Linked DNA regions of Homo sapiens: region 1 is linked to region 2. The links come from fine-mapping of genetic effects on gene expression. Tissue or cell type: whole blood. Region 2 holds a variant in brackets; the other region holds the start of a gene. All regions are shown on one strand. Distances are between the middles of the regions.

Region 1 (2,614 bases), 30 kb after region 2:
AACTGCTGCCCAGTGTCTGGGGAGTAGGTATAGCAGAGTAAAAAACTTTGTAGTGAGCTTCTTCCTAGGAAAGGGCCTTTGCTTTTTGAGATGATGTGCGTGCTGGGTCTCTGTGGGTTCTCTGTGTGTGTGTGTGAGAGAGAGAGAGGGGCTGCTGCTTCCCGTGGCCCTGTAGGTGAGCATCCCTCATTGCGTGGTTGGATGTGAGAATCCTGCATCCCTGTCTGTCCCTGTGAGTGGGAGAGAATATTGTGTTCATAGAGCAGTAGAAGTAGAGAGAGAGAGATAGTGTGTGTGTGTGTGTGTGTGTGTGAGCGAAAGGGAGAGTGACAATGCGTGGGTCAGGGTAACTGGAGGAGGAACAACAGACACAACAAAGGGGGCTAGAGGGAGGCTGGAAATAGCCCAGGATCAATACTTGGCCAGCAGCCAGGGCCTCCAGCAGCCAGAAGAACCCTTACAATAGTTCCCCGGGGTAGCCCCTGCCTGTGATTCCCAGGCTTGTGGGCTGCCCCTTTCCTCTCCCCTTCCTTCTTGCCTGTTCCAGCCTCGGGAATGAGGCTGAGCTAGGGGCCATGTACCAGTTTCTCAAGCAAAGCCCTGGGAGTGCTGGGGGAGGGGGCATTTAGGCAGCTCTTCCCCTCCACCCTAGCCCAGCCCCAATCCCTTGTGTGAGCAGGGGTCTTCTCCACTTTCTCAATTGCTCTTCTCCTCTTGCTGACTGAGCTCAAGCTCCCTCAACCCCTAGTTCTGACCTCCCCACCAAAGCTTCAGCTCCCACCCCCATGGTTTCAGCCGGAACCTGCCCAGGTTAGCCCTCACCTGGTGTGGGCGTCCCTGGAGGGGAGGCCCGGCGGCTGCCAGAGGGGCAGAGTGCTGTGGTTTCTGTGTCCATGTCCATGTCTGTGTCCAGGTCCGTGTGCATCAGTGTGCGTGTGCGTGTGCGTGTGCGTGTGCAGCCCAGCAGCTCGCAGCACCCTCTCCCTCACTCAGCAGCACTGTCAGCTTTTCCCTTTAAATACCACCCCCCCCCCCGACACACACACATGCCCTCCCCCCTAGACACCTGGGGAAATTGTCCCACCCCCTGATGAGGTCACACATGCTAATGAGCAGTGATGTCAGCGGGATTCCCTCCTTTCTGCCCCCCCTCCCTTTTCTTTGTGTCGCTTCTCTCTGGGAGCACACACACTGCAGAGCTTGGTTGAGTTATGACAGAACAGTCAAGGGGCAGAACAGACAAGGGTTGCAGGGGGTGTCAGTGGGTAAGGGAGCTCAGGGTGACAGAAGGCAGGGACCTGGGGAGGTGAAGGTCTTTCTCCAGCAGCCAGGACTACGCATCATTTGTCTTTGTATTTCCAGACCCCTAGCCCAGTGTCTAGCCCAGAGAGCGTGCTCAGTGGCTGCACAGGGGCAAGAGGCAGAAAGATTAAAAGCTGGTCTGAAAGACAAAGAGATGCAGGCCAAAAGAGGTGTGGGGACTGAGGGTCAGCCACCCTGCCACCTTTTCCTTCTCCACCCTGCCTCTTCTGGGCTAAGAGCCACGAAAGTACTCATTTCCCAGCCCCTAGGCAGATGCGGGCTCTGAGGAAGGAAATTCAGCTGCTTCATTTGGGCAGCTTCATTTTGCCACTAAGTTCAGGTAGGGGCAAACCACTGTGGAGACTCTTCCACCTTCTCTCCCTGCCAGGCCCACCAAGCTAACGATAATCAGAGCAGGAAAAAAGGGTGAGACAAAGCTAGCTATCTCAAACACGAGGTTCCCAATCTTAAGTGGGTGGGGAAGGGGGAGTGCCAGCTACCCCCCAACTCCCCTACCCACTGTTAATGTTTTTTTGGTGCAGCTGCCAGGCCTTCTGGGCTATGCAAGGCAGGTACGCAATGGGTGATGTCTGCCTGTTTGTAGGAAGCCCAGATAGCACATCTCTTTTACCGTTCTTTTTCTGCCCAGTTCCCTTTCCCTTCAGGTTCCTTCTCCTGCCCCTTTCCTTCTTGTCCTCCTTCCTGACACCCTTAAGCTCCCAGACACACGTTCCGATTTCCTTTCCTTGCCCCGTTTTTGCCAGATGCTGTGCTAAGTACTTTCTTGCATTATCTCCTTTCATCTTCTTGAGCCCAAGGCCCACAGTGGTAGGTGGGTGCCCCGTCCCTAAAGCAATCTTGCAGCTGGAAAATGGGAACACCAGGAATCCCACCCACATCTTTCCAGTGCCAAGGATTTTTCATTTCTACATTGTGCAGCTTTCCTTCTCTTAAATATTCCAACTGTCTCCTATTATTGGGAACAGTCTATATTGCTATCCTCAGTGGACTCTTCCAATGGAAGAGGCAAAGAATAATCTTGGGAACAATGTGCAGTGACACTTCACTTATTTGGAGGTCAGCTATAGGGCAACAGTGCAGGGTTTGAGGGAGCAGAAAGGACCCCTCAGCTGCTAAAATACTCCTGTGCTTTACTCACTGGGTAGATTCTCCAGTCCTCAGTCATGGCCTACTTACTTTTACTTTTTACTTACTTTTATTCACAATTTTAACGTGTCCATGTGTGTTCCTGTACTAGTAGATTAGAAACACATTTAGAGTAGCAAGTGACCCCTTGTAGTCAGGGAGGCAA
Region 2 (2,500 bases):
CTTCAGCCTCCTGAGTAGCTGGGATTACAGGTGCTTGCCACCACACCCGGCTATTTTTTTTTTTTTTTTTTTTGAGACAGAGTCTTGCTCTGTCACCAGGCTGGAGTGCAGTGGCACGATCTTGGCTCACTGCAACCTCTGTCTCCCGGGTTCAAACGATTCCCCTGCCTCAGCCTCCTGAGTAGCTGGGACAACAGGCGTGCGCCACCATGCCCAGCTAATTTTTGTGTTTTTAGTAGAGATGGGGTTTCACCATGTTGGCCAGGATGGTCTCGATCTCTTGACCTTATGATCAAACTGCCTCGGCCTTCCAAAGTGCTGGGATTACAGGTGTGAGCCACCATGCCCAGCAAATTTTTTTTTTTTTTTTTTTGAGACAGAGTCTTGGTCTGTCACCCAACCTGGAGTGCAATGGTGCCATCTCGGCTGGCTGCAACTTCCGCCTCCCGGGTTCAAGCAATTCTCCTGTCTCAGCCTCCCAGGTAGCTGGGATTACAGGGATGCGCCACCATGCTTGGCTAATTTTTGTATTTTTGTATTTTTTTTTTGAGATGGAATCTTGCTCTGTCACCCAGGCTGGAGCACAGTGGCGCGTTCTCGGCTCATTGCAACCTCCACCTCCTGGGTTCAAGCAGTTCTTATGCCACAGCCTTCCAAGCAGCTGGGACTACAGGTGCGTGCCACCACGCCTGGCTAATGTTTTGTATTTTTAGTAGAGATGAGGTTTCACCATATTGGCCAGGCTGGTCTCAAACTCCTGACCTCATGACCGTGCCCAGCCTTAATTTTTATATTTTTAATAAAGACGAGATTTCACCATATTGTCAGGTTGGTGTCAAACTCCTGACCTCAGGTGATCCACCTGTCTTGGCCTCCCACGGTGCTGGGATTACAGGTGTGAGCCACAACTCCTGGCCCCAAAGTTGGTCCCAAAGTTTTTCTTGTGCCCTTTTAATTTTTTTTAATTTTTTTTTTTTTTTTTTGAGACGGAGCCTTGCTCTGT[C/T]GCCCAGGTTGGAGTGCAGTGGCGCGATCTCGGCTCACTGCAAGCTCTGCCTCCCAGCTTCATGCCATTCTCCTGCCTCAGCCTCCCGAGTAGCTGGGACTACAAGCACCCGCCACCACGCCCGGCTAATATTTTGTATTTTTAGTAGAGACAGGGTTTCACTGTGTTAGCCAGGATGGTCTCGATCTCCTGACCTCGTGATCCGCCCGCCTCGGCCTCCCAAAGTGCTGGGATTACAAGCATGAGCCACCGCGCCCGGCCTTCTTGTGCCCTTTTAAAATCTTTTTCTCCCAGCCCTTCCCCTTACTTCTATCCCTAGGCAACCATTGATGTGCTTTCTGCTTTCTTTGATATAGTGATTAGTTTGCTTTTTTTTTTTTTTTTTTTTTTTTTTTGAGACTGAATCTCACTCTGTCTCCAGGTTGGAGTGCAGTGGCACAATCTTGGCTAACTGCAACCTCCGCCTCCTGGGTTCAAGTGATACTCCTGCCTCAGCCTCCCGAGTAGCTGGGCCTACAGGCGCGTGCCACCACGTCCAGCTAATTTTTGTATTTTTAGTAGAGACGGGGTTTCACCATGTTGGCCTAGATGGTCTCGATATGTTGACCTCGTCGTTGACCTCGTGATCTGCCCGCCTCGGCCTCCCAAAGTGCTGGGATTACAGGCATGAGCCACCGCGCCTGGCCTAGTTTGCATTTTTTAGAATTTTATGTAAATGGAATTGTTCATTGTGTACTTTTTGTGGGGGGGGCTGGTTTCTGTCACTCCGTGTAATTATTTTGAGATTCATCCATGTGTGGGTTGATAATTCCAGACCAATAACATTTGAATAATTTATCCTATTGGTTTTCTTTGGTATTTTCTGTTTTTCTTATTTGACAAACTGGTGGTAGACAGCCTGGGGAGAGGCAGTTTCTAGATGTGAAAGCTTGGGGAGGCACGTTTTACCTTGCCTGCCAGAGAGAAAGGTTTCAAGATGGGATTAGTCGAGCCTGTCTTAATCATCATATTTCTGAGTTACCTAAACTGTAGTTGGTATTGGTTAGAAAATGCTCAGGGATAAGGCCCTAATTATTGGTGTTCAGGGTATGCGGAGAGGAAGACGTTAGGGCAAATCTGCATTTTGGTGTTGCTTTGACTTGCTTCTGATTTTTAGTCGTGCCTCTTTATCTTTTTATTGGACATAATGTGCCTATATTTGTTTATTATTTTTTCGTTTTATATTTTTCTCACATCTGTAGCAGCCAGGCCTGTTTTTATTATTTGAGTTTAAACCAGGTATTTATTCAGAATTTTGAACAGTAGAGTGGAGACCTAATGTCTATTTTATAGTGAACAGTAGTTTGGCCACCATCATTTTCTCTTCATAGAACAGGATCAGTGTTGTATTTTGTTTCTTCCTAGATACTCAGTTTTCTTCTATATCCTTGACTATTTTTTTATGTATTGTTTTTTGTGTTTTTTGTTTGTTTGTTTTGTTTTTGAGACAGGGTCACA

The links. PIP is the estimated chance that this variant, and not a neighbour inherited with it, causes the effect.
Region 1: it holds the start of REM2, and the variant in region 2 is fine-mapped to the expression of REM2 in whole blood (TOPMed, PIP above 0.99).

The regions. Positions count from the first base shown.
Region 1 is chr14:22,881,599-22,884,212 of GRCh38, reverse strand. It overlaps REM2 (RRAD and GEM like GTPase 2), which reads right to left and starts at 991. Exons shown (of 5, transcript NM_173527.3): 1 at 823-991. The coding sequence starts at 925. LRP10 (LDL receptor related protein 10) reads right to left here. Exons shown (of 7, transcript NM_014045.5): 7 at 2,500-2,614. RefSeq lists enhancers at 202-739, 740-1,278.
Region 2 is chr14:22,911,897-22,914,396 of GRCh38, reverse strand. All of the region lies in intron 1 of RBM23 (RNA binding motif protein 23), which reads left to right. Among named protein-coding and RNA genes, the nearest start is that of RBM23, 6.0 kb to the left of the region's middle. The variant C/T (reference allele first, on the strand shown) is at 1,004.